Linked DNA regions of Homo sapiens. The protein of the gene in region 2 interacts with the protein of the main gene of each other region in a pairwise test. Each region holds a gene or a part of one and is shown on either strand. Other genes may lie near its edges.

Evidence for each region.
Region 1: the proteins of CAMK2D (region 2) and TNPO2 interact in binary tests that used the Homo sapiens proteins (3 or more experiments, as listed by UniProt).
Region 3: the proteins of CAMK2D (region 2) and FKBP1B interact in binary tests that used the Homo sapiens proteins (3 or more experiments, as listed by UniProt).
Region 4: the proteins of CAMK2D (region 2) and TNPO3 interact in binary tests that used the Homo sapiens proteins (3 or more experiments, as listed by UniProt).

The regions. Positions count from the first base shown.
Region 1 is NC_000019.10:12,699,910-12,706,932, reverse strand, and holds part of TNPO2 (transportin-2), read left to right. Parts: intron 1-137; coding exon 138-363; intron 364-414; exon of another isoform or gene 415-484; intron 485-565; coding exon 566-737; intron 738-1,164; coding exon 1,165-1,251; intron 1,252-1,333; coding exon 1,334-1,441; intron 1,442-1,534; coding exon 1,535-1,693; intron 1,694-3,131; coding exon 3,132-3,219; intron 3,220-3,261; exon of another isoform or gene 3,262-3,336; intron 3,337-3,406; coding exon 3,407-3,505; intron 3,506-4,014; coding exon 4,015-4,110; intron 4,111-4,755; coding exon 4,756-4,861; intron 4,862-5,081; coding exon 5,082-5,181; intron 5,182-5,260; coding exon 5,261-5,335; intron 5,336-5,479; coding exon 5,480-5,587; 3' UTR 5,588-5,607; intron 5,608-5,689; 3' UTR 5,690-7,023. UniProt on the Homo sapiens protein: Probably functions in nuclear protein import as nuclear transport receptor. Serves as receptor for nuclear localization signals (NLS) in cargo substrates.
Region 2 is NC_000004.12:113,450,728-113,457,750, forward strand, and holds the end of CAMK2D (calcium/calmodulin-dependent protein kinase type II subunit delta), read right to left. Parts: intron 6,837-7,023; coding exon 6,608-6,836; coding exon of another isoform or gene 6,604-6,607; exon of another isoform or gene 6,461-6,603; intron 5,095-6,460; coding exon 5,028-5,094; 3' UTR 4,999-5,027; intron 3,789-4,998; coding exon of another isoform or gene 3,785-3,788; 3' UTR 305-3,784; downstream 1-304. UniProt on the Homo sapiens protein: Calcium/calmodulin-dependent protein kinase involved in the regulation of Ca(2+) homeostatis and excitation-contraction coupling (ECC) in heart by targeting ion channels, transporters and accessory proteins involved in Ca(2+) influx into the myocyte, Ca(2+) release from the sarcoplasmic reticulum (SR), SR Ca(2+) uptake and Na(+) and K(+) channel transport.
Region 3 is NC_000002.12:24,044,998-24,052,753, reverse strand, and holds the start of FKBP1B (peptidyl-prolyl cis-trans isomerase FKBP1B), read right to left. Parts: upstream 3,014-7,756; 5' UTR 2,905-3,013; coding exon 2,868-2,904; intron 1-2,867. UniProt on the Homo sapiens protein: Has the potential to contribute to the immunosuppressive and toxic effects of FK506 and rapamycin. PPIases accelerate the folding of proteins. It catalyzes the cis-trans isomerization of proline imidic peptide bonds in oligopeptides.
Region 4 is NC_000007.14:128,954,112-128,961,134, reverse strand, and holds the end of TNPO3 (transportin-3), read left to right. Parts: intron 1-3,668; exon of another isoform or gene 3,669-3,819; coding exon 3,820-3,880; 3' UTR 3,881-3,911; intron 3,912-5,749; coding exon of another isoform or gene 5,750-5,768; 3' UTR 5,769-6,950; downstream 6,951-7,023. UniProt on the Homo sapiens protein: Importin, which transports target proteins into the nucleus. Specifically mediates the nuclear import of splicing factor serine/arginine (SR) proteins, such as RBM4, SFRS1 and SFRS2, by recognizing phosphorylated SR domains.

The DNA.
Region 1 (7,023 bases), on a different chromosome or scaffold from region 2:
GAAATGAGTCTGGGCCAGTGATTTAAACTCTAAGCCTCAGTTTCCCTATATGTTGTGTGCGGCTGACTCTTCTCTCCATACGGTGGGTGTGGCTGGGCCCAATCAAACTGCCCCCTCTTGGTTCCCTTTCCTTGTAGGCTGCATGCAGGGCATGGTGCCCTACCTGCCTGAGCTGATCCCGCACCTGATCCAGTGCCTGTCGGATAAGAAGGCCTTGGTCCGCTCCATCGCCTGCTGGACGCTGAGCCGCTATGCCCACTGGGTGGTCAGCCAGCCACCCGACATGCACCTCAAGCCCCTGATGACAGAGCTGCTCAAACGCATCCTGGATGGCAACAAGAGGGTACAGGAGGCGGCCTGCAGGTGACCCTGGACCCCTGATCCCACAGCCCCCACTCTCCCCCGGCCACCCTCTGGGAAGTGATGACACCTGTGACTGTTGATGTGGAACTGATTTATCGCGTATTCGTACTGGCTGATCCTGAGTTGCCCTCCCCAACTGCCCATGGCCCAGTGTCACCTGCCATGGTCCACTGAGCCCCCGCTTCATCCTCCCTCCCACCAGTGCTTTTGCCACCCTGGAGGAAGAGGCCTGCACGGAGCTGGTGCCCTACCTCAGCTACATCCTGGACACCCTTGTCTTTGCCTTTGGGAAATACCAGCACAAGAACCTGCTCATCCTCTATGACGCCATTGGCACCCTGGCCGACTCTGTAGGCCACCACCTCAACCAGCCGGTGAGACCCCAGAGCGGCTCCCGCCTCCCGATCCCCGTGCCCCTGGGCATCCAGTGACCTGGTGGCAACCCCGTGTTGCACGCCAGGGACGTGGCCGTGACCTCGACAGGCAGACAGACAGACCCGGCCCCGCCCTCGCCCTGCTCCCAGTCTAGTGGGGGAGAAAGACAGTTATGAGACAGCGTGGTAAGTGCTGTGCTTCGGGAACCAGGAGGTGGTAACCCAGGCTCCCGGGGGGTGGGGTGGGGCGGGCGGTGCTTGGACAGGTGAGAAGAATGAAGGCCTCGAGGTCTGGCCAGATGGCAGGCCTTTCAGGGTCCCATGAGCCACGGTGAGGCGCTCAGGCCTCATCACTCGGGCAACAGGTACCTGAGTCACAGTCTGCCACCCCGACCCAGGGAGCGCCCATTTCGTGCTCCCTCTCCAGGAATACATCCAGAAGCTGATGCCCCCACTGATCCAGAAGTGGAATGAGCTCAAGGACGAAGACAAGGACCTCTTCCCCCTGCTGGAGGTGAGTGGGCTCCTGCCCCTCACCCGAAACCCATCCTGCCCACCCTGCCTGAGTTCTCCCCACCTGCCTTCCTCCCTGCCAGTGTCTGTCATCGGTGGCCACCGCCCTGCAGAGTGGCTTCCTGCCTTACTGTGAGCCCGTCTACCAGCGCTGTGTCACCCTGGTGCAGAAGACACTGGCTCAGGCCATGGTGAGCAACCCTAGGCCCGTCACCTGTGCTTCTGCATTGGCCTGCCTCGGGCCTGCTCCACTTACCCGTGCCCCTGTCGGCATCTGTGTCTAGATGTACACCCAGCACCCTGAGCAGTATGAGGCTCCCGACAAGGACTTCATGATCGTAGCACTGGATCTGCTCAGCGGCCTGGCCGAGGGCCTGGGTGGTCACGTGGAGCAGCTGGTGGCCCGCAGCAACATCATGACATTGCTGTTCCAGTGCATGCAGGTGGGTGGGGACCCTGGACAGTGATGACACCCAGCAGCCTGCGTGGGCTGCCCCTGGTGGGGAGTCAGGGCCTGGTTGTGCCCAAAGGAAATCAGGGAAAAGGTGCTGTTCTAATTATTTTAAAGAGTAATCCTGGAGGCCGAGGCAGGATTGCTTGAGCCCAGGAGTTTGAGACCAGCCTGGGCAACATAGTGAAACCCCAGTTCTAAAATTAAAAAAAAAAATTTTTTTTAAAGCAAACAGTATTGAAAATAGAAAATGTGAGGCCAGGTGCTCACGCCTATAATCCAGCACTTTGGGAGGCTGTGGCAGGTGAATCACTTGAGGTCAGGAGTTTGAGAGCAGCTTGGCCAACACGGTGAAATCCTGTCTCTACGAAAAATACAAAAATTAGCCAGGCATGGTGGTAGGCGCCTGTAATCCCAGCTACTTGGAAGGCTGAGGCAGGAGAATTGCTTGAACCCAGGAGGCAGAGGTTGCAGTGAGCTGAGATCATGCCACTGCACTCCAGCCTGGGCAATAAACTGAGACTCTGTCTTCAAAAAAAAAGAAAGAAAAGAAAATAGAAAATGTGAAAGCCCAAGTCCCTGCCCCAGCACAGTTGGCTCTCTGTATCTGTGGGTTCTACATCCCAAGATTCAAGTAACCTCAGATTGAAAATACTCAGAGGAAAAATTACATCTGTACTGAACGCATACAGAAGTTTGTTCTTGTTATTATTCCCTAAACAATACAGTATAACAACTATTCCCATACTGTTGACATTGTATTAGATATAAGTGATTTAGAGATGATGCTAAGTGTACAGGAGAATGTGCATAGGTGCATATGCAAACACTATGCCCCCCCCACCGCCCCCCACCTGTTTTTTGAGACAGAGTCTCACTCTGTCACCCAGGCTGGAGTGCAATGGTGTGATCTCGGCTCACTGCAACCTTCACCTCCAGGGTTCAAGCAGTTCTCCTGCCTTAGCCTCTCAAGAAGCTGGGACTACAGGCGTGTCCCACTATGCCTGGCTAATTTTATTGTATTTTTAGTAAAGACAGGGTTTTGCCATGTTGGCCAGGCTGGTCTCAAACTCCTGACCTCAAGTGATCTGCCTGCCTCGGCCTGCCAAAGTGCTGGAGATTACAGGCATGAACCACTGCGCCTGGCCCTAACACTGTGCCACTTTATATCAAGGACTTGCACATCCGTGGATTTTTATATCTGCAGGGACCTGGAAAGAATCCCCCACGGACACTGAGGGATGACCGTTGGGGCACTGCCATCTCCCATTTGCAGATGTGGGCTGGAGGCTAGGGAGGTTAAGGAACAGCTAGGAGCTCTAGAACTGGAAAGTGGCAGAGGCTGGACATGCACCAGGGACTGTGCCCCCTGAGCTGTCCTGGTTAGAAGGAGGGGAGCCTAGCCACACTGATCTTACTTGAATCCCCAGGACTCGATGCCTGAGGTCCGGCAGAGCTCCTTTGCCCTCCTGGGAGACCTCACCAAAGCCTGCTTCATCCATGTCAAGCCCTGTATCGGTACGACACTCGCCTTGTCCCTAACCCATGACCCCAGCCCCGGCCTCAAGTGATGGAGAGCAATACCCGGGGATGACTGTGACCACATTGGGATGTATTCGTACTGTCTGATGGGGCCTGCTGGACTAGGTCCTGCAGCTTACCCTGGCTGGCCCTCCTTCTCAGCACCCCTGTTTCTCCCCACCAGCCGAGTTCATGCCCATTCTGGGCACCAACCTGAACCCAGAGTTCATCTCCGTCTGCAACAACGCCACCTGGGCCATTGGTGAAATCTGCATGCAGATGGGTGAGTGCCCTGCAAGTGGCAACACGCGCCCCCCATTAGCCTGTTCTCAACCTGGGGGCGGGAGCCTAGCTCTGACTGACAGCTTCCTTCAAGGCAAGTCTCTTGGGGGTCGTCAGGGGTGGAGCCAAGCAGAAAGGTCATTTGTGATTGGCTTCTCTAAAGAGGAGGGATAGGAGGGCTGTTCTGATTGGACCGTTTTGTGTAGTTGGCTAAAAGACTCATTCGGATTGGTTGGGTGACTTTGGCTTTTTTTTTCCTTTGACTTGGGCAGCGTGTTGTCACCTTAGCGACTCCAGAGAAGCCTCTGTTGTTTGGAGGGTGTGGGTCTGTCCCTGGTTGGCCAGGGATTCTGGGTGGGGATTAGCCGGAGAAGGTCTTTTGTTTCCTCACTGGTAGTGGTTGGCCAGTCTCTAGTTGGAACTGGGGCGAGTAGTGAGTGAGGTGGGGCGGCCCCCTGGCCCCTGTGGGTGGCGGGGGCTGTGCAGGGCTCTGACTGGGTGCTCCCCCAGGGGCAGAGATGCAGCCTTATGTGCAGATGGTCCTCAACAACCTGGTGGAAATCATTAACCGACCCAACACACCCAAGACACTGCTGGAAAACACAGGTGGGCACCTGGCCCGGCTGCTGCCTGCACCCCTGCCTGCCTTCTGGAGGTGGGGTTCTGGGCTGGGAAGGGCATCAGAAAGAGCCTTGTCAAGGAACCAAGGAGGGTGTCTGGAAGTACCTGGAAGGGGTCACTGGGAGAAGCCCCAAGAAAGATGCAGCCTCAGGCTGGGTGCAGTGGCTCATGCCTGTAATCTCAGCACTTTGGGAGGCAGATCACCTGAAGTCAGGAGTTCGAGACCAGCCTGGCCAACATGGTGAAACCCCATCTCTACTAAAAAATACAAAAATTAGCCGGGGGTAATGGCACGTGCCTGCAATCCCAGCTACTCGGGAGGCTGAGGCAGGTTGCAATGAGCCAAGATCATGCCACTGCACTCCAGCCTGGGCAACAGAGCAAGACTCCATCTCAAAAACAAAACAAAACAAAAAAAAACAAAAAGGAAAGGGAAAGGAAAGAAAGAAAGATAGATGCAGAGAGACCTGGGAAGTGACTCAGGTGTGATGAGGAGGACCCCTGGCTGGGCCAAGCTTGGGGGACCAGGGTGGCTGCAGTAGCCATTCCCTTGGGGCTCATGGGGCGGGGCTTGGTGCCTTGTGCCAGAGGCCCCGCCACGTACCGTCCCGGGGCCGCTCGGGGTTGCAGGTCGCCTGACGAGTCCCTCTGCCATTCCAGCCATCACCATCGGCCGCTTGGGCTACGTGTGCCCCCAGGAGGTGGCACCCATGCTGCAGCAGTTCATCCGGCCTTGGTGTGTGTCCACGTGTCAAGCCTGCTGTGTGGTGGGCGGGACTGGCCCAACCCCCTCCCTCGCCTGTGCATTTCCAGCCCCATCTGCCTACTGACTCCCTGCCCTGCCCCACCCCCACAGATGCATGTCCCAGGCCCACTCACTGATCCCCAGTGACCCAGCCCTCCACAGATGCATGCCCAGCCTGCCCTCTGACCTCCAGCTGCTCACCTTCCCACAGGTGCACGTCCCTCAGGAACATCAGGGACAACGAGGAGAAGGACTCAGCCTTCCGCGGCATCTGCATGATGATCGGTGTCAACCCGGGGGGCGTTGTGCAGGTTGGGGCAGCTGGGCTCTGAGGGCAGGCGCGGGCGCTGGGCTCGGGCGGCCCCTCACCTGGGATCCGTCACGTTTCAGGACTTTATTTTCTTCTGCGATGCTGTAGCCTCCTGGGTGAGCCCGAAGGATGACCTTCGGGACATGTTTTATAAGGTGAGGCTCTGTCTGGGCCCTGATCTAGTTCCGGGAGCAGGCAGGGGTGAGACCATCTGGTAACAATGGGGCCTGGGGATGGGGGAAGAGGCGCACTCCCCTTGTTCTGCCCCTGCCTACCCCTCACCACCACCCTCCCCACAGATTCTCCACGGCTTCAAAGACCAAGTTGGGGAAGATAACTGGCAGCAGTTCTCTGAGCAATTCCCGCCGCTGCTCAAGGAGAGGCTGGCGGCTTTCTATGGGGTCTAGGTGATCATGGAGACTGCCAGGTAAGGAGACTGCAGCTGGCAAGTCAGCACTGTCTTGGGGGCCGAAAGGTCCCAGGCCATGACCTTCCTCCTCCCCCTGCAGGTTTCTGTCTGCGTCGTCGTCGGAGGGATTACTGGGGAGTGCGCTGCATCCGGAAGTCGCTGTGCCCTGGTTGAGGGGGGTTAGGGAGGAGTGAGTGGGACTCAAATCCAGATGCCTTCCCCGTCCGTCCGTCCGTCCGTCCATCCGTCCACTTGCCCTCCTGGCAGGTGGGTGGGGCCACCATGCTCATCCTACAAACGGGGAGGTGGGGGGGACTTCTGGTGGGCAAGGGCCCCTGGGCTCTAATAGGGTCATCTCTGGCAGCCCACTTGGGCCAGCTACGTGGGAGGGAGGAATTACACAGCTGACCGAATCCGGCTTCGGATGAGGTGAGGGAGGAGCAGGTCAGGAGGGGGGCCCTCGTAGGGACGCGTACACTCACACGGACACACATGGCCACACGCATGTGCGGGTGCCATAACCGGCGAGGCTGGGCCAGCCGCTCCACCATTTCCCCGACTGCATGGAGACAGTAGAATTAGTGAACCCCTGAGTTAACCCGTAAGGCCTTCCGTGTAACCTGCATCTAGAGTTTAAGAAGCTTCTGCTGTTTTGCCGGAATTGGCGGTGACTGGGGAGGGCTGGGTGGGTGGGGGGCCTCAGGCGGGATCTCGGGGCGGGGGGAGGAGGATGGTGACCTTGGGAGTCGCCCTGTCAGCACGCACATGCTTGGGACCCACTCCACACACTCCCTGCCAGCTTTGTTGCAGCCTCAGCTGGTGGTGTCTCCGTCCTTATCCTAGCCTAGCTCGCAGGGTGAGAACCACTGGAGTGGCTGGGGCTGGCCAGAGGTCACCGTTTCTCCTTCCTGTGTGCTCCAGTGGCTTTTGAAGACACTGGGTTGGGACCTTTTTCCTGAAGAGAGCTGGGTGTAGCCAGAGCTACTGGCACCTACCCCGAGCATCTCTCTCTGTAAGCAGCTTCAGGGGCAGTCCGTTTCTCTGTGCTTCTGAAACCCCCTTCTCACGTTTCAGGCCCCAGTTTTAACTCAAGGCCTGGGGCAGGGGCGTTTAATTGATGATGACAGAGGACACAGGTTTTTGCCAGCAAAAAGGAAAACCAAGGCTTGGTGGAAGGGAAAGGTGGTGTGTCCCCTGTTCCCTATTCCATCTCCCTGGGACTTCCTGCTCATCATAGTACCCAGTGAGCCCAGAGATCCTACTAGACTGGGTCAGCAATTCTAGAGAACCTTCCGGAATAGTCTGGGAACATGGTCAAGGTGGAAGGGGCTCCCCTAGAGAGGGTGGGGGTGTAGTTACTTCCCAGTTGGCCAGAAAACTGGGCCTTGCAGACCCCCTTAGCATTTTTTCCCTTTTTTTCCTTCCCTGCTTTCT
Region 2 (7,023 bases):
TGTAAAGCAGCAAAAGCCTAAATGCAAATCCTTCTGGAGTACAATTACTGCTTAATCTGTTATCAACTTTTCCTACTCCAGTCTGCAGGAGAACATTCTAGCTCTCTTCTGAGAATTGGTTTTGTCTGAGAGAAAAGCAGGAATGCTGTAAATGCTTCCTGCTGCTTTCTCAGGTTAGGGTGGTTTATGACAGCTGTTGTTCAGTTCATGGACACATGGTCTAGTACGCTGATCTTCATTGTAATCTTTTTGTACATTCTCACCTTTAAAAAATCTGATAAAAAGACCACAGAGCCATGAAAGGTTCATAGAAGTCAGTAGAATTTTATTCAATGAAATCACTCGAAAGCTGTGTCATCTATGTTTACCCTTAAATTATAATTTTTTACATAAAAATTCAAAATTTGGGTGAAGATTAATATTCCTTGAAAATTTCCTTAGAATATACTGATTTGCTACTACATTTCATTTTTCCTACATTCAGCTAGATGACCACTTCATTTGGTGTCTCTCAGCCTTCTGCTGAGACATTTGAGTCCGAGTATATCCTCAGCATTAACAGTAAACCTACATAAAGAGGGCAGCCCAACAGCAAAACAAGAGTTGTATACCCTCGTGAGCAAAGAATAATAACAATAGGAATATTAATGTCAGTGATCAGAATAGTTATACTGCTACCATTTAATTTCTATCAAATATCATTCTAGTCACTCTGTACCCATTAATCCTCACAATATCTTTATTAAGTTGGTATGTTTATTCTCATTTTACAAATATGGAAACTGAGGGTCAGAGGGAAGAGGTAACTTGCTCAGAGCATCAAGACAGTGGTGAGAGAACCCATCATTAAAACAAGGACTATCTGGGTACCCCTTGAGGCTTCTGTTATCAAAAGGGCTTGGCCTCAATTCAACAACTATTTATCAATGATATCTCCATTCCTGGCCTTGGTTTGGGTTTAGGAATGCAATGATGAATACACAGTTCTTGCCCATGGAGACATTATACTGCAGTAGAGGAGACACAAATAGAAATATATTTTCAAAACAATGTGGTTGACAGGAGAGGTAAATACAATCTATTATGTAGGTTTTGAGAGGGAAGGCAAGCCCAGAATAGGGCCTAGGAAGGTTTGCTGTGGAGCATGATGCTGTACACTGAATCTTAGGAAAAAGTAAGAAGTCGGGAAAAGAAGTAGGGGAAGAGACTATTTATTCTAGGTAAGAAACATAAACAACATGAACAGCATAAACAGGCATGTGAGCAAGTGTGATGTTTTTAGCAAATCAAAAGAAGCTGAGCATCCATGTATGCTCAAGTTCAAGCTGGGGAGTAGCAGGAGCTGGGGTGCTTGCCTGTATCCCAGAAATGATAACATCAAAGTGTTACAAGGACAGGTTCGTATTAAAAAAAAAAAAAAAAAGCAGCCATGTGAAGGCTGGATTGGAGGGTACAGTTTAGAGAAGCTTTTAGGAGTCTTAGTTGTTAACTATATTGTTCTCAGCAACATTTTCCCAGAAGAGACCATTGTTTTGCTCACAGAGAACAATTAACTTGCCATTCTCACCAAGTGCAAATTGTTATGTACTAAATGAGACCAGAGTAGGACACACTGCCCTTGACACTGGCCAGCACTATGCAGGCATACATACAGTACCTCTTCTGAAGAAATAAAGATGGACGCACTGTCAGCAGAAATCACAAATTTATTAACTCTTAAATATATCAATCAGTCCTTTACCATTATGGCAAGAAATATATACAGTGTCCCATGGTAAACTGCAGTGTTTCAAAATGATAGAAGATAATAAATGTGTAATTCATTTGTGGTGGAGAGAACAAATCACAATTTCCTCACATCTTAGTGCGGAAGACAAACTTGATCTACAGTAATACTTCAACACCACATGCTAAGTTAAAAGTGTAAAAAAAACACTCTACATCTATTTTTTTTTCTTTAAATACATGTATGCCACGTATAGCTGCTTCACAAAAGGGTAAAAGAAATTAAAAAGAGAAAAATGAGGCCATTATTTTTTCACAGATCTCATTGGCAGGTTAACATGGCTCAATATATTTACTGTATATATTTATTTTAAATATATATGTTGTTTTAAATTGTGTAATAATTATCAGAAAAGCTTCAACCCATCTACCATACATCCACTAGCAATAATATCTAAGATGATTAGTAATCAACACAGAGAGGTGAGATGAGAGAAAAGAGGAAGGGTTGTTTTTGTTATTTTGTTTTTCTTTTTTGCTTCTGCTTTAAAAATAGGCTTCTGAGGACTGTGAATTACTATCGTTAAAATAACAATGATGGAGATTCCATGCACTGTAAAGCACTTCAGGGAAGAGAACAAAAATCACAGGAATTGAATCAACAAAGGAAAAATGAGAAGCACAAAGAAAACCTAGGACATTTCCCTTTTTGTTTTAAACTGGGAAATTCTAACTCCTTGGAGGAAGACAATGATACTCTGATTCAAGAGAGAAGCTAAAAAAGCACAAGTCACAAAGATCAAGTTCAAAACACTTATGAGAATGGCAAACATTTGTAAGCCTCTCTAACACTAGAAAACTAGCTAGTGATGATGCAGAAGTGACCCTTTCATTCCCCAAGGCGGAGGTGAGTGCGTTTGCATAAAACCCCCTCTGCTATCAAGTTGGTATCCTCCTGGCAACTGTCCCAATCAGTAAGACGTTGCAGTCACAGGAGGAACTTGCTTTTATCCTAACTTTAAACAATGCAAATACCTCCAACATAGTTAGGATACCTAAGTCCAAACTAGAGCTTAAGCAGAATTATAAACCTTTAAAATCTTGACAACATTTTTGTGGGCCCTGAAGATGATCAAAAGTGCTAGTATAGCTACCTTCAAAAGACTTTTATTTCCCTTTTACATTCATTATGCAAATTTCACTTCTATTCTTTTCTCACACACTACTAGCCAGCCTCCCCAAAAAAGGAAAAGGGAAAAAAGTAAGAAAAGAATGGAACAAAAGAAAAATAAGAAAGCAAACGAAAGGAACAAAGAAACAGGATAAAGAAAAGAGATCACAGATTTGAGAAAGAAAAACAATTCAATTCAGCAAATTCACCAAAACAATGTGAATATATCCTAAAGTGATTAAACTCAGAAATGATGTGAATTTTTCCAGTTTACACAGTTTGACCAAAAACAGCATGGCTTTATGTGGTAGCAAACCAACTGATTCTTGCTTCTACTTTCATAAGTGATTTTGCCCACATATCATCCCACTTTAATTGTTAATCAGCAAAACTTTCAATGAAAAATCATCCATTTTAACCAGGATCACACCAGGAAACTGAAGGTGTATTTTTTTTTTACCTTAAAAAAAAAAAAAAAAACCAAACAAACCAAAACAGATTAACAGCAAAGAGTTCTAAAAAATTTACATTTCTCTTACAACTGTCATTCAGAGAACAATAGTTCTTAAGTCTGTTAAATCTTGGCATTAACAGAGAAACTTGATGAAGAGTTGTACTTGGAATATTGTGGATTTTTTTTTTTGTCTAATCTCCCCCTATTGTTTTGCCAACAGTAATTTAAGTTTGTGTGGAACATCCCCGTAGTTGAAGTGTAAACAATGTATAGGAAGGAATATATGATAAGATGATGCATCACATATGCATTACATGTAGGACCTTCACAACTTCATGCACTCAGAAACATGCATGAAGAGGAGGAGAGGACGGCCCAGGGTCACCATCCAGGTGCCTTGAGAACAGAGAATGCAGAAGTGGCACTGTTGAAATTTAGCTGAAAGGAGAAAGGGGGAGGAAGAAATAAATTATATTGTTTTACAAAATATCATCAAATTGCTTTGCCATAGATTTGACTAGGCTACAGTTTTATAACTTGGCTAACAAATAGATTGAAAACACTATGTATAAGAGATGTTTGCTTGTGATCATTACAAGAAGAAACATACAATGTTACACAAAGAGAGTATTAAATTAGAAGATCAGTATTAATTATTTTTTCACACAAAGCTAAGCTAAAAATAAAGAGACAGAGACACAGTCTTCAGTCACATTATTAAATCTAAGTATACATCTTAAGCATTCCTGTTTACTGGACAAATTAGTAAATGAATATAATCCTTTTGTTGAAATAGACTTAAAATTCAAGTTCATCCTTAGCTTCTGTTATTATTGTTAGATTCCTTGGGAAATGAAACCTAGAAGTCAATTTAACAAGGAATATAGTCTCGAAAGTAGAGAGAACATGATTACTCTCTTTAATTGGAGATCTCCTTTGCTGAAAGCAACAGCTGGGAGCACTATTTGTTAAAAGCTCTGATAAGGTTTAGTTCTCTGAATGAGGCAAATATTCACAACAGCACCATACATATCTGAATGCTTGTAACCCAAGTCTAAGAAACAATTAATTAAAAACAACAACAAAAGCATGAAGTTAATTACAGTCAACTTTCAATTATCCTCTGGAATTACCCATTTTGTGAGTTTTAAATTTCAGCTTGACTTCCTCCTGTGGCCTGTCCTCATGGTCAAGTACCATTATACTCAGTCAGGCACAGCAAATTGATTTACACATTCGCCATAGCCAGCTGCTTACAGAACTGCAACCTCTTGAAAGAATGGTTAAGACACCAAAGGATTCTAAAGCTTAATATAAATTAAGTCCGGATAATTGAGAGTTATCTGAACTGACCCAGACATAATTTACTTTTGATGTGAAAACTTCAGGATTCTAACATGACACAATCCACATGTTGGAAAAAATTCTTTTCAGTGTTTATTACCTTTAAAATAAGGATTATGCTACCAAATAGGGCTGAATGTTAGATTCAAAAGCTCATGCAAAATTGCTATGAATTTTCAAAGACCTTGTGCGTTTTTCATTGAATATTATGCAATAAAAAATATCCTCAAAAGGAAGGAAAACAGCCATGCAGCTTTTCATTCAGCTCCAGTCACAAAGTATCACGGAGCAGGATGTTACTTACAAGACCCATATGTGAATGGTTTTCAGGCCTTAGATGTTTTGCCACAAAGAGGTGCCTCCTGAGAAGTTTTCTTTCCCATTTGGAATACAGGGTGGCCTATTAAGAGAAGCCCCATTTAAGCCACCTGGCATAAAATGAAGTTTTCTTGAATAGGCTTCATCCCATAAACACTTCAGGGAACTGCAAAAAAACCTAAACCCCTGGTACTGTATGAATGTAACCCCTTCTATATTAACTGGCGATTTGTGCTGTACCTCTTTGGGGTGAAAAACACACAAAAACGGGTGTCTTCATTATCTTCATATTCCTCTTGTGTTTTTCTCTTAATTACATAGCTATGGTTTTGGGAATAAATTTCAGCCTATTGTTTGGTTTGGTTTGATTTTTGTCCCTGTTGACCCACTTTTTACAAATCTAACAGTGATATATAATTATTAAGGCTATACAGAAGGCCTCTGAAAACCACTGTGGTATGCTACCAAACTAAGAAATCATGATGGATTCTCTGGAGTGAGTTGAATGGCTGTTTGTATGAACCCCCATTCCAAATCTCAAATATTAACAGGTGATCCTGGTGAGAGAATTTGGAAAGAGATCAACAGTGGACCCAACTTCTACACTGAGTTTAAACTCTTCTTGTTTTCATCTCACTCCACTTTACCAATAAGCCTATTTTCAATTATTCCTCTTTAGTTGTAACCGGCCTTCCTTACCAATAATGTTCTATCATATTAAACTAAATCCTGATATTGTACTTTTCTTCATGATGCTCATTTAGCTTGGACTATCCATCCTCCTTTGCTTTTTCAGTCTATGTCTCTAAATTCTACTCATCATTTAAGATTTTGTCCAAAATTCTATCTTATATACAAAGTGTACTTCCAAACTGTTATAAACAGTTTACTACACTGTTCATTAACTCTACTGTATTCTGAAGTTGATGATAAACTTTATTATATCATTTTTTTCTTTAGAATCAATGATTGGCTAAATGAGAATACATGTTTCTTGAAAGCAATATCTTGTACTTTGTGTTGAATCTGGCACAGATTAAGCACCTAGGTGATTCACAATAAATATGTGCCTAATCGCTGACTGGAAAAGCAAATGATATCTGAGGTAGAGTGGTGAGGTGAGAATGACATTGCACTACCTGACAATGGCCTTTTAAATGCTGTCTCTCTAACTGAGCTTTAGGGGATCATCTATGAAATGAAACTCCTGATAATATATTGGCCATTTTAGAAACTCCTCCCTATGTTTTCCTCTGATATCCCCTTCTTCTGTCAATTGAGAAGATGAAGTCACAAATATTTTGCCTTATTATACAAGTCCTCTAGATTTAACCCTGTGAGATTTTGATCACGTAGTCTCTCGTCCTGTCTAAACCTATCATATACTGCTCTATAGCAAGTTTCAACCCACAAATGGCTGATCTGATTGATCTTTCCAGAGAATCATAAACCTTTCCCGTGAAGGCATTTATTTTCATCAGTGTAACCAACTACTAGCGTTAAATAACATATACCATGCTATTAACAATGGAATAAGTAGAAGGAGCTGACCATGGGTGTATTAACAAAGAAGCTGACAGCCTGGAAATATTTACTTGATGGGTACTGTTGGTGACCCCGAGCGATGAAAATGAACATTCTGCCACTTTCCATCCCGGCGGTGCCACACACGAGTCTCTTCTGACTGCATTGTCTTTGGCATTCCACTGCCATCCATGTACTGTGTGAGCCTAATATATGCTATGCAGGCGGCATCATCCCCTACCAGATGTACATGAGGGTTTAGAATAATAGTGTGGATTGGTTTATTGCTTTTGGACAAAGCTGAAAGAGAAAAACATGAAAAGCAAAATTTAGTTTCTATGTAAAGGAAACTAAAACCAGTAATAACTTCAGTTAGGACCAATGAATGAAATGACATTTATTCACTCACTAATTAATTAGTTAATTAATCTACTATTTGTACTAATTGGGTACTGGGCACTGTACAAAGCAAAAAAAGAATGAAAGT
Region 3 (7,756 bases), on a different chromosome or scaffold from region 2:
CTCAAGAGATTCTCCCACCTCAACCTCCCAAAGTGCTGAGATTATAGGCATGAGCCACCAAACCCGCCCTGGAGTTTATATTCTAATGGACAGAGACAATACTTAAATATACAAAATGATTATGGATTATGATGAATACTCTAAAGAAAATACACACAATGATGTATTAAAGGGAGATGCAGTGGGACAGGCCATTTCAGACAGAGTGGTCCAGGATGGCCTCTTGGAGAAGGTGCCCCCTGGAGCTGGGACTTGAAGGATGAGCAAAATACTGGGAAATAGCACTTGGGAAAGGAGTAACAAGTGCACAGAATCAACACATTTGCAGTGAGCAAGGAGGCTAGGTGCTGGAAAGAAGGGAGGGAGGAGAGAGGTGGGAAGGACATGGATCATGCAGGGCTTGAAGAGCCGGATTTAATACTAAGTGCAATAGGAAACCACTGGAGGGTTTTAAGCCAGAGAATGACATAATCTGAATTAAGATTTTATAACATCACTCTGGCTGCTATGTGTAGGATGGACGGTTAGGCGTCTGTTGCAATAATCCAGACAAGAAATCAATGATAGCTTGATTTAAGGTGGTGGCAGCAGAGAAGAGAGTGAAAGATTGGAGACATATTTTCGAAGCGGAGCTGACAGGTCATGCAATCAGACTGGAAATGGGGTCCAGGATGAGGACAAAGGAGACAACAAGAACGATGCTTGGGTTTTCTGTTTGGGCAACTGGATGAATAGTGCAACTATTTCCTGAGATAGGGAAGACGGGAGGAACAGATTTGTGCGGGTGGCAATCTTGAGATGCCTATTAGACATCTGAGTTTATATTGCAAGTAGGCAGATGAAGAGTCTGCACTGGAGGTATAAATTTGGCTGGAATTTAAAGCTACGGGGCTGGATACAAAGCCTAAGGAAGCCTAACCACAGAGCCGATATTTAGAGGACTCTATGGGATCCTGGAGGAGGGAGCAGCTAACTGACCACAGAAGTCAAGGAAAACATCATAGAGGAGAGAATGGTGAAGCCAGGTCTTGAAAGACAAGTAAGAGTTTGCCAGAGGAAGTGAAAAAACACCATCTGGGAAGAGGGAACAACATGTAACATGTTCAAAGGCCCTCAGTCCAGCAATAGCGGGAACCCTGTCTGTTTCAACTGTGTCACCTTAGGGCCTAGCACACACGTTCAATAAATATTTGCTGAACGAGTGGTGTGTTTGACAACTTGCAGGCAGCTTGGGAAAGCTGGAGGAAAAAGTTAGTGGTGGGCTTAGGACAGGTGGTGAGAGATGAAGCTCTAGTGTGGAAGATGAGAATAGACCATAGCACCAAAGGCCCCTCCTGGGGGAGAGGGAAGAATCATTAAAACATCTTCTGCCTGAGGGAGGGGCATAGTCAAACATGCATTTTTTTTCTTTTTTTTTTTTGAGATAGAGTCTTGCTCTGTCACCCAGGCTGGAGTGCAATGGCACAATCTCAGCTCACTGCAACCTCTGGCTCCCAGGGTCAAGTGATTCTCCTGCCCCAGCCTCCCGAGTAGCTGGGATTACAGGTGCGTACCACCATGCCCAGCTAATTTTTGTATTTTTAGTAGAGACGGGGTTTCAACATGTTGGTCAGGCTGGTCTCGAACTCCTGACCTTGTGATCCGCCCGCCTCAGCCTCCCAAAGTGCTGGGATTACAGGCGTGAGCCACTGCATTTTAAGAAGAGTCTTCAGGCTATGATATAGAAAGGGAGTGAATATGAGATTGGGGACGAGATTGAAAGCAGGGAGGAGAGACTGAAGATGGGGAGATTAGCTCAGGGGCTGCTGAGGGATGAAAAGGCCTCAGGGAGATGCTTTCTGGGACCCAGCAGCAATGTTTCCTGCGTGGGCAAAGAAGCCTGTACTCCAGGGGATATCTGAAGTAGTGGCTGGGATTGGACAAGGAAGATGGCCTGGAGCCAAGAAGTTATCCAATTTCCTGGGGAGGGGAGCTGTTCATATTAATAATATCTGATATGAAGTTTGCCCATCAAACCCTGCAGACAATGGGGGCTTTGGTATTAATTAAATTTCAAGAAATAAAGAAATGGCTATTCCTTGCACACCCAGACCCAGTAATACAAGGACTTGGGAAAGTGAGACACGGAAGGGGGATAAAGAGGATCACTTAGGAGAGAAGGTGGGAAGCGAGAGTTCTGTTTTGGACTTGCTGACCAGGGAGCACCCTGGGACGTCCAGGGAGAGGTTCGGCCGTAGGTCGCAGGGCTGGGCTTAGAAGCTTCAATGTGGAGGCCATGGGAGTGGACAGGGTGGCCAGGGAGTCTGAAAGCGGCGGCAGGATAAAGCGAGATCCGGAAGCGGGCAAGGGAGCGCTTCCCCCTTCCCCAGCCTGGGTCTGTCCCCACAGCCGCTCACAGCCCGGCCCGCAGGGAAGCGACCGAGGGGAGGCCCGGCGGGGGACGCGCTAGGAGGAGGTCCCCGAGCAGCGGGTATCCGAGAGCAGGTCCTGCTTTCCAGAGCTCGCCGAGTAGGGCAGGGAAAGCGAAGCCGAAACCCAGGCTGGGGTATCAGCAGCAGCGGATAACCGAACGACTGCAGCCGCGACAGGAGAAGCCCGGGGCGGTGGCGGGCCGCAGACCCCCGCCTCCGGGCCGCAGACCCCCGCCTCCGAGCTGCCGCCTACATTCCCCTAGGTGAGCGCGGAAGAGGATGGCGGAGGATGGTCTCCTAGACCCCCAAGAATCCCGTCCGGCGTCTCCGCCTGCCTTCCCCATCCAGCCCCCCGACCCTTCAGCACCCTCCACGCCACCTCCGAATCAGACCCCCGCCCTCCGGGCTCCGCCCCGGGACCCCTCCCCTCCCCTGGCTCCGGAGGGAGCCCGGTACCGTCTCCGGGGGAGATGGTCTCGATCTCCACGCCCATAGCGGTCCCACAGGCCCCGCCTCTGGGGGGTCCCTGCTGCTGCCCGACCCCGGCTCGGCTCCGGCCCCAGCCCCGCCGTCGCTCCGGCTCGCCTCCTCGCCGCCACTGCAGAGCCGGAGGAGGTGCGGCTGGAGTCGGGACCTGCGCGGGGAGGGGCCACTGGCAAGGGGGCGGCGGGGCGGAGCCGCGCGGAAAGGTGGGGTCGGCCGGGGCGGGGCCCGGGGGAAGGGACCCCGCCCGGCTGTTAGCGAGCCTGGCCCCGCCTGACGACATTAACCCACTGACCAGGGAGCGTGGTAAGCACAACCACATCCTCCATCCATCCATTCATTCGCGCATCCGTCCAATAGACATTTATTTAGCATCTAATCTGTAGTAAGCTCTGGGAAGTCAACCCAGTCCTACAGACTTGTGGGGGGTGGGGGGCAGAAGGGGCAAAGGCCGGCGATTAAACCATCATTTTATTTTTATTTTTATTTTAGACAGAGGATCTTGCTCTGTCGCCCAGGCTGGAGTCCAGTGGCGCGATCATAGCTCACAGCAACCTCGAACTCTTAGGCTCAAGCGATCCTTCTTCCTCAGCCTCCACCCAAGTAGCTGGGACTAGAGGCGCGAGCAACCACGCCCAGCTAATCTTTTATTTTTTATTTTTATTTTTTGTAGAAACGGGGTCTCGCTGTGTTGCTATCTAATGAAACCATCACTTTAATTAGATGCGCTCAGTGCCGTGCAGTTCAGAGCGTTGCGGAAGCACAGAAGAGGTTCCTACCCTCGCTAGGCGTCCTGGATCTGTAGGAGCAGAGCTGGGGGAGGGAGGGAGGACACCAGTAATTGCTGACTCTCCCCCATACCCCTAAACCCCTGTTCTCCATCTCGTGTAGTTCTGCTCGACGCACATTTATTGGGTACTCAATTTTCAAGGCAAAGAAATGCGCCCTGGGGATACCAATAGAATTAAGACAGGTTGGCTGTCTTCCAGGTACTAAGTCTGAGAGGGACGGGGACACACAGTTACTGCATGGAGTGATTAGTGCTGTGGAATGAATGAATGAATATGTAAATGAATTCTACTTTGAGTTCCTCCTCCACCAAAAAATACATTCAGGAATCTAGAAAAATATTTTTTGGAGGAGGTAATATTTGTTTAAAGGGTAATTGGGACTTTTAAAATTTTTTCCCCCTCATTATTACCTGCATTGTTCCAAAAATTGATGTGAGGCCAAGTATATCAATTTTTGGAACAATGGCTCACACCTGTAATCTCAACACTGTAGGAGACCGAGGCAGGAGGATTGCTTGAGCCTAGAAGTTCAAGACCAGCCTGGGTAACATAGCGAGATCCCGTCTCTCTCTCTCTCCTTTTTTTTTTTTTTTTTTTTGAGACAGAATCTTCACTCTGTCGCCAGGATGGAGTGCAGTGGCACAATCTCGGCTCACTGCAACCTCCGCCTCCCAGGTTCAAGCGATTCTCGTGCCTCAGTCTCCCAAGTAGCTGGGATTACAGGCGTGAGACACCAGCGTTCGGCTAATTTTTAAATTTTTAGTAGAGACAGGGTTTCACCATGTTGGCCAGGCTGGTCTCGAACTCCCGACCTCAGGTTATCCGCCCGCCTCAGCCTCCCAAAGTGCTGGGATTACAGGCATGCCATCTTTATTTTTAAAAAAAGAAAAGAAAAGAAAAAGAAAAACATAAAAACTGATGTGAAGATATGATTCTCCTGAGTGGCACTGGAAGATAGGCATGGGGAGAAAAGCCTGGCAAACTGGTCCAGAATGAGCCCCAAGGGTGTTCTTCCTCCATTTCCTCATCCCCACTCTCCCGGATGCTTAGGTCCCAGATGAGGTTGTCTGCATCCCTGAAGGTGTTCTGGCTGTGTTGTTAAAGAAAGATGATTGTCGACTGTACTGTGAGGGTCAGGACCTGGAATTCCTCATAGGTCTGAAGAAGCCTAAGGGACGCACTAAATCCATAGGCTGCGGCCAGAGCAGGCACGCTTAGGGTCGGGGTAGAACAGGGATTTGTAGCTGGGACAGGCCCATGCAGCGGCTTCAGCTCAATGCACAGTATTTTGTGTACAGATAAGAACATTTTCCTGAGAGATTTTATCAGATTTTAAAGAAGGTTAAAAAGCCGTGGTGATCCTAGGGCTCCTGGACTCCTTAGACAAGAGAACCGACGAGAAGTGGGGAAAGAGCTCAAGTGCTTAAGGGAGGGAAAATGTGGCGGGCTTGCGGTCGGTGGTTTTACGGGGACTACCACTCCCAGCGATCCGTGCGGCAGAGCCAGAGCTTATTGGCCAGTGGGACGAACCCTCTGCTAATGTGCATATTCAAAAGCCAATAGACGGGGCCATCTCGGAGCGTGCCTATCCTATCAGAGGACCACCCACCTATCAGAGGACCGATATCACCGCCCACCTATCAGAGGACTGAGGGCCGGTGCTTCCGGTGGCTGCCCAGAACTTCTTATGTGCGGCGGCGTGATGTTGGGCGGCCACAGAGAGATTGGTGTTTTTGTGAGGCAGTGAGACCTAAGGTATTTCATCTCCACTGCTGCCGGGCCTGGCGGGTGTGGGGAGGCTGTAGGGGGTCAGGAGGGAAGTGGATCGGCTCTTGGTGGGTAGGGGGCGGGAAGGAGGAGATTCAGGCGTGCAGAGAGGATGAGGAGAATGGGGCGGGCCGCGTGTGAGGGGTCGCGGGATGAGGATCGAGCTAGGGGTGGGTGTAAATGAGGGATTATGACCGTGACTCGTGAATAACACTCCTGGGAATATGTCCCAAGGAAGTCATCCAAAGTCAGGAAATGCTTTAAGCCTTAAGACCTCGGTCCGAGCTTTATTTATAGCGGGTAGCGGGATAAAGTTGGGTACAGCTAGGAGCAGTTCAGTACATTATGTCACTTCACTGAGTGTATGTGAAGTGGCCTCTAAAACTAATTTATTAAACTTTTAAATAACATAGGGAAATGCTAATATATAATGTTAGATGAAAACCGTGATACAAAGTTGCACAGTATAACTGAAAAAGTTTGACAGCCAAACTATGCATAGAAGAGTCTAGAGGGATTAGTCATAATTTTCTTTGGATGAATGTTTTTTCGTTAACTCTTCTTAATTTTTTTCTTGTGTATGATTTTTGTTTCCAAATAAGTGTAAAGAACTTGAAATCATTTTATAGTGGAAATACAATAAACTTGGAAAACAAGTTGGGGGAGGGATGTACTTTTGTTTAAACCTGCTGGAAATGCCAGTTCACCTGAATCCCTTGATTCTCGTCATGAGTTGTCTTTAAAGAAGATGAAAAACAGAATTAAATGGTTATATACTGAGCACCGGCTCTTAGTTTTCTGACCACCTCTCCGGAGACCTGAACTAATACAGTGGTCTTTTCCCTCCTAAAACACCCAGGGTTCTTGATTTCATGTTCTCCAAAAAACTTATACTCTGGAGATTGTGAAACAATAGGTATACAATTAGTTTCAGGCAAAATCAGTAGCGTTGGGGAATGCCTGAAGAGCATTTAAACCTTGGTCCTCCTGGCCCTCTGATCTTATACAGTGAGGTTCTCCACTACCTTGACTTTAATGATTAACCCTATGTCAGTGATTTCCAAATCCTTACCTCTGACTGCCTAAGGTACATTGGTACCATGTAGACATCTTACATGAAGCACATGTTAATTTCAATTTGTCACATACTACACACGTTCCTCCCCTACTGCCCCCACCCCCACCTCCCCAACAGGGTCTCACTCTGTCACCCAGGCTGGAATGCAGTGGTGTGATCATAGCTTACTGTAACCTTGAACTCCTGAGCTCAAATCCTCTCAGCCTCCATAGTAACTAGGACTGCAGGTGTGGGACGCTGCACCCAGCTAATTTTTATTTTTATTTTTATTATTTTTTATTTTCCTTTTTTATGGAACGCTTCACAAATTTGCAAGTCATCCCTGTGCAGGGGCCATGCTACGCTCTGTATCATTTCAGTCTTAGTATATGTGCTGCCAAAGTGAGCACCCACCTCATTTTTAAAAATTTTTCTGTAGAATTGGGGTCTCCCTGTGTTGCCTAGGCTGGTCTTGAAATACTGGCATCAAGTGATCCTCCCACCTCAGCCTCCCAAAGTGCTGGGATTACAGGTGTTAGCCACTGTGCCTGCCCTTCCTTTCCTTTCTTCCTTCCCTCCCCCTCCCCCTTCCTTCCTTCCTTCCTTCCTTCCTCTCTCTCTCTCTTTTTTTTTTTTTTTTTTTTGAGATGGAGTCTTGCTCTGTCACCCAGGCTGGAGTGCAGTGGCGCAAACTCGGCTCACTGCAACCTCCGCCAGCCGGGTTCAAGCGATTCTCCTGCTGCAGCCTCCCAAGTAGCTGGAACTACAGGCACACACCACCACGCCCAGCTAATATTGTATTTTTAGTAGAGACAGGGTTTCACCATGTTGGCCAGGGTGGTGTCGAACTCCTGACCTCAGATGATCCACCTGCCTCAGCCTCCCAAAGTGCTGGGATTACAGGCATGAGGCACCACACCCAGCCTGCCCTGCCTTCCTTGCCTTTGAAACATGCTCTGGTTAATGGTTCAGCAGTTTCTCAAGCTAAAAATCTGGGTGTTATCCTTAATTCTTTTTTCCTCCTCACTACTTATATCCTATCGATATCACTGTCTATTCCATCTGCCTTAAAAGCATCTCTTGAATATGGCCTTCTTTCTCTACTGAAATAGTTGCAAACTTGCTTCATTTTCACTTTGTGGCATTCAAATTACTTGTCAACTTTCTTCCTTCTCAGGTCCATTCTGCATATTGTTACTTGAATATATGCTGGTTCCCCCAAGATTCCAAATTCCTCAGCATGCCCT
Region 4 (7,023 bases), on a different chromosome or scaffold from region 2:
TTTATAGATACTGTATACTTAGGCTACACTAAATTTATAAAAAAATTTTTTTCATCAATAATAAATTAACCCTTGGCCAGGCGCGGTGGCTCATGCCTGTAATCCCAGCACTTTGGGAGGCCGAGGCAGGCAGATCACTTGAGGTCAGGAGTTTGAGACCAGCCTGGCCAACATGGTGAAACCCCATCTCTACTAAAAATTTAAAAAATTAGCCAGGCGTGGTGGTGGGCACTTGTAATCCCAGCTACTCAGGAGGCTGAGGCTGGAGAATCGCTTGAACCTGGGAGACAGAGGTTGCAGTGGGCCGAGATTGTGCCACCGCACTCCAGCCTGGGCGACAGAGTGAGACTCTGTCTCAAAATAATAATAATAATAATAATAATAAATTAACTCTTGCTTACTGTAACTTTTTTACTTTATAAACTAAATTTTTTTTAACTCTTGGACTCCTTTGTAATAACACCTAGCTTAAAACACAAATTGTACAGCTCATTAAAAAATTTTTTCTTTATATCTTTATAAGCTTTTTTCTATTCTTAAAATTACTTTATTTTTTTTTTTTAGCTTTTAAACTTTTTTGTTAAAAGCTAAGACACAAACACATATTAGCCTAGACCTACACAGGGTCAAGATCATCAATATCACTGTCTTCCACCTTTTTACATCTTGTCCCACTTAGAAGGTCTTCAAGGGCAGTAACACACATGGAGTTGCCATCTCCTAGGATAACAATGTCTTCTTCTGGAATCCCTCCCGAAGGACCTGCCTGAGGCTGTTTTACAGTAAATTTTTTTTTTTTGTAAGTAGAAGGAATATACTCTAAATTAATGATAAAAAGTGTAGTATAGTAAATACATAACCCAGTAATATAGTTGCTTATGATCAATTATTGTATACTGTAGATAATTGTTTGTGTTGTCCTTTTATATGACTGGCAGTGCAGTAGGTTTGTTTATACCAGCATCACCACAAGCATGTGAGTAACGCAACATGCAGTTGTTCATCTCTATTATACTCATAGGATCACTGTCATACATGCAGTCCATCATTGACCAAAACATCATTGTAGCACATAACTATAGTTCTAACATTCATGGAGCTTTTTCGTTTTTTTGAGACGGAGTCTTGCTCTGTCGCCCAGGCTGAAGTGCGGTGGTGTGATCTCAGCTCACTGCAACCTCCACCCCCTGGGTTCAAGCGATCCTCCAGCCTCAGCCTCCCGAGTAGCTGGGATCACAGGTGCCCACCACCACACACGGCTAATTTTTGTCTTTTTAGTGGAGATGGATTTCACCATGTTGGCCAGGCTGGTCTCAAACTCCTGACCTCAGGTGATCTACCCGCCTTGGCCTCCCAAAGTGCTGCGATTACAGGTGTGAGCCACCGCGCCCGGCCTCAAGGAGCTTTTTGATCCATTTCTATGGGCTCCCCACCAAGGACACTTCAGTTAAACATTTGGCTGAAGTGTTTGACACCAAAGCACTTGCAGATAGGATTGGGGCAGAAGCCAAGTTGACAGTGTCACCTGTCCCTCATTTCACCCTATCGCACTAAAGTTCTCCCACACTTGCATTTCAGTTTCAATACTTTTTCTCATGTGCCACAAAGGAGGCTGTGAAGTTATCATTTCCAAAGTCTCTGCTGGGCACAGTGACTCACGCCTGTAATCACAGCACTTTGGAGGCTGAGGCAGGACGATAGCTTGAGCCCAGAGGTTCGAGCAGCCTGGGCAACACAATGAGACCCTGTTTCTATCTGTTCTGAAAACAAAACAAAACAGAAGTCTCTTGAGGAAGGGTAAAATTTAAAACATGTAAGACATTAGGATAGCAAAAAAATCTCGGTCTCCAGCACTGTCCTAACTTTCAGGGTTTTCTGTTATCCTAGTCCCTTGTGATAACACACCACATAGCAACTTCTCTTGGGTTACAGATCTTCCTCCTTCCTGACATTGGGAGCATGAGTGATATGGGCTCACATACCCTGGCTGCCTCCTTAACAGTCAGTATTAATTTGGAAGTAAAATGAGAAATGTAACACTTAAATTGAAGCTTATTAAATCCACAGAGGTAATGGCAATTCCAATAAAGCCAAAAGACCTTTCTCATTTTCTTTCTTTTTTCTTTTTTTTGAGACAGGGTCTCACTCTGTTGCCCAGCCTGGAGTGCAGTGGCACAATCATGGCTCACTGCAACCTCAACCTCCCCAGCTCAGGTTATCCTCCTGCCTTAGCCTCGTGAGTAGCTGGGACCACAGGTGTGCACCACCACACCCAGCTAAGTTTTAAATTATTTGTAGAGACGGGGTCTCCCTGTGTTGGGATTACAAGCATGAGCCACTGTGCCTGGCCACCTGCCTTATTTTCATTACATTTTTAGGATGGAGAGACTAGAAGAAAGTTTCTAGAATGTTCTGTTGAATCAAGTCATGGAGTCTAAGTCAAGGTTCTTAATGATGTTTCAGAACTTACAATGGATGGGGAAATCTGGATGTAGGAACCTAAATGGATAGCTCTATTTTCACCTTTTCTGTTGGATCGCTTAGAGCAGTTTCCTCCCCTGGTGTTTAACCATTATGAGATGGAAAGTGTGTTTTCATCTGCATTGAATCCTTGGCTGTAGGCACTGGTATCTGAGTTAGTTGAGCCAGGGAGAGGGCTACAGGAAGGCAAGCATATTAAGAATTGCTTCCTGGCTGGGCGCGGTGGCTCATGCCTGTAATCCCAGCACTTTGTGAGGCCGAGGCGGGCGGATCACAAGGTCAGGAGTTCGAGACCAGCCTGGCCAACATGGTGAAACCACATCTCTACTAAAAATACAAAAAAATAGTCGGGCGTGGTGGTGGGCACCTGTGATCCCAGCTACTGGGGAGGCTGAGGCAGGAGAATCGCTTGAACCTGGGAGGCGGAAGTTGCAGTGAGCTGAGATCGTGCCATTGCACTCCAGCCTGGATGACATGAGCAAGACTCCATATCAAAAAAAAAAAAAAAAAAAAAAAGGAAGTGCTTCCTTCTCCACTGCTTTAGCTTTTAGCTTAGCCTTATGTTCATTTAGCAAAAACTGTTATGAAGACAGATACAGTAGAATGAAGCTGGCATCAGCTGGTTTCTTGGTGACAGTTTTGGACAAAGGGAGGTCGGGGGGCTTTTGAAAAAACAGGGTCAGTTGAATATTGGGCTATTCATATCACATAGGCATCTCCTGCTTTGTCTCTCTTTCTACATGCTTTAACCCTTTCCTCTCTCCCTCCTCCTCCCACAGGAGGAAATCCTGAGCAGCCTGTTCAACTAGAAAATCAATGACTGGTGGAGACTTAGTTGCTAGACCGGCCTTTGTAAACAAAATCTATCTTTGGAAGAGAATGAGGAAACTTATGAGAGCCGTAGCAACCAAGTGTTGTTGTAGCAGCCTACATTTATTGAATACTATTTTGTTCACTGCTCTATTTTCATAAGCACTCTGTATGTGGACGATTTTAATCCTCTAAACAGTGTTATGAAGTAGATAATATTAATAGATGAGGAAACTGAGACAAAGATTGGTAACTTGTTCAAGGGCACAGTGGAGCCAAGATTCAAACTCGGGCAGTTTGTGTCCAGAGTACACCCTTTGAAGACCACCAAGCTTATAACTTTTCTCATATATAATAATTTTTGCCCTGAATTACAGAAAGATCTGAAGCCAGGATCGCTCAGGAGACGATGGAGAGAGCTCCTAGCAGAGTTGGGACGGTTCTCAGTGTGCCCCAATGTTGCAGTTGTTTTTCAGCATATTCTGTCTTTCTCCTCAGTCAAGGACCAACCTACCTTTTCTTTTCTAGTGCTGAGGAATGTAAACAAGTTTGCTGGGCCTTGCGAGACTTCACCAGGTTGTTTCGATAGCTCACACTCCTGCACTGTGCCTGTCACCCAGGTGAGGATACATAGTTCCCAGCTTTTGTCCGGACTGTCGGACTGTTGGGGATGCCTGGGAATGGGGATAGGTTTTAATGCCTATCATGGGACCAGTCTTATAGCTAGAGTCAGGGAAGGACTCAGCAGTTTAACTGTGGTGAACAGCTGGAATATACAGGGCCCGGATTTTCTTGGGCCTGGGCAGCCAGTAATTGTCAGTGTCTTTGGGGTACCATTTTCACCTCCATAAGAAAGTAACTGTTACACAGTGCATTGAAACATTTTCTTCCCCCTTCCCCTTACAGACACTTCTAAGATGGTAAGTGTACATGGCAACAAACAAATAAGTATTTTTAACCTGGCCACTTTGGCGAAAACAACCTCAAGTTGACTGTTATATGTGGTGCCAGTCTCCTAAAACTGACCCTCCAGATGTAATGAGCAAAGAGCTTATTCTTATCACTTTTATGACCTGAATGCTGAAGTGCCAGGTTTTGACCAGGGCAGGAGGTATGAATTGAATATCCCTTATCCGAAATGCTTGGGATTTCGGAGGAAAAAACACTTTCAGAAGTGTTTTTCAATTTTGGATTTTTTGGGATTTTGGAATATTTGCAGAATGCACACCAGTTGAGCATTCCTAATCCAAAAATCCAAAATCCAAAATGCTCCAATGCTCATTCGCTTGAGGGTCATATCAGCGTTCAAAAAGTTTCAGCTGTTAGGGATGCTTGGCCCTTACAGGAGAGGAGGAGCATCTTTGGCTCCCGATGAGCACTTTTCTCCACGTGCTTTCCGTCTCCTGGTTCTGAAGCAAAGCAAGAAGCTTAGCTGAAAGGAGTGGGTAGTAGAATTTGGGTGCCAGTTTCTTGATGGAGAGAAGAAAGGTAGCTCTCCTCTAAGCCCACCCTTTGATGTCTCAAGGTGAGTTTCTTCTCCCAGGAGGCAATTCTTGATGAATCTGTAGCACTCACTGGTAGTTTCTGTGTTAAATGCATTCATAGGTAAAAGTGATGTTCAGCAGTGCCTTGCCACACCCAAAATCATTTCTCAACTTTGATTGTTTTAATGAGTAATAATATCATTTGGGATGTCCTGGTTTTGCATGGTGTCTGGGTTAGCTGACATTGATACACCTCATAAGGTTGCTCATGGACAGCTGTAGGTGTTCATGGTTAACTTTTATTGTGCCCTTACTGTGTGTCAGGGCACTGTTTTAAGTGTTTTAGATGTATTAACTAAGATAATCCTCATCTGCTTTTCTGGATTTGTTACTATTTTTCCCATTTTACAAATGAGGAAATTGAGGTTCAACAATGTTTAACAATTTGCCTGACAGTTATTCGTGGAGCCAGAATTCACATGTAGATATTCTGGTACCAGAGTCCTCACTTTGAACCACTCCGCTTAATACAGTATCCTTTCGATAGCATCTAAATTGGTGTTTTGTTTTGTTTTGTTTTCAACTGTTATTAGTAGGCAAAGCCTTCTTTCAAAATAAAATCGACATGAAGCCTGTGGGATTTAGCAGACTGAGGCAAAGCTTCCCTGGTTGCTTTGGAATGGGAGGCCTGGACCTGCTGGCTCTTTGCCCTCCTGACACATCATCCCTTGTTTCCACAGCACACTCAGCATTGGAAGCACACTGCAGACGGTGTCTCATTAAAGCAGTAGCTCCCTTGAACCCACAAGTTAAAACGCCAGACTTTTATTTATTTGTTTATTTTTTCTGAGTTCTTATTGGCAGACTTCAGAATGAGGTACCTGAGGAAATATAGAAACCTCTGCCTTAAGGTTGATTTTACTAAATGCTCTATTTTCTGGTGCAGTTATTGACTGTCTTATCTCTTTTGTCAGGAATGTCTTTTTTAATTAGAAGACAGGAAGAAAACAAAAACCAGACTGTGTCCCACAATCAGAAACCTCCGTTGTGGCAGAGGGGCCTTCACCGCCACCAGGGTGTCCCGCCAGACAGGGAGAGACTCCAGCCTTCTGAGGCCATCCTGAGGAGTTCCTGTTTGGGGGTGTGAGGGAAAATCAGCGCGGATTTTAAAAAGATGGCTGTGGCCTGCCCGGCGTGGTGGGAGGGGAGCTGGTTTCCTGGTGAACTTTCTAAAAGGAAAAATAATTTTAAGTAAAGAAAAAAGAAAAAAAAGGAAGACTAAACAGAAACCAGAACTGAAACATTCACCTGGTAGCAAATGACACATGCACGCACACACACATACACGCACAAGCGCCAGTGCGCACGTGTACACAGAAAAACAAAAGGACAAGCTTTCTGTGAAACAAAATATTTACTTAGGGATAATGTGGGGATTCACATGAATTAAATAGCTGCAATTGGAAGAAGAGGGTCAGGGTCATTTGTTCAGGTTTTCTATTGTTTTGTCCTCTCTTTCCTCTCCTACCCTTCCTTCTCTTTCTCTCTCCCCTCCTTTTAAATGCAAATGAGTAGAAATTTCTTCTACCTTCCCCAGCTGTTTCTTCCCACCTTTAGAGTTGTTTAGACAAGGAGGAGTAAGCAAGGAACTTGTTCTGCTTTCTATCGTGGTCACATTGGTGATGCTCGGGACCTGCCAGGGTCAGAATTTATGGATATCTGAACCCTGACCCCGTTCATTCTCTCAGTCCACTTCCAATCCACATCAGTTTGTTGTCTGCCTTGGAGAGAAGAGCCAAAACTGGGGTGGGCGGGTGGGTGGGGAGTGCAGGATATAAATGTGTAAGTTTTTGTTTTTTAAGGTTTTTTTCTTAGTGAATTATTCACCCACAGACATGAGAGAAAAAAAGAGGGAGGGTGTGTGGAGAAAAAATGTTTACAGGGCTAACAAGGGATGATGTGTCATTTAGTATGTTACTAAAAAGTGTGGAAATGACTTGATTTTAAGGGGAGGGTGAGGCCGAAGAGGGAAGCCCAAAGCAGATCTTAATGTTTCAAAGGAGTGCAGCCCTTCACAGCCATCAGATATGAGGGCACTGTTCTGTCTGGTGTTGTAGCCATCTCAAGAACAAATCAACAGCAACAAAAGAGAAAGAATAAATTTTTAAAATTTAACCAGTGTTTCTTTGTTTTTACTTTCATTCACTGCCTTGTAGCTCGGAAATGGTTCAGCTAGACTAGCTATGGA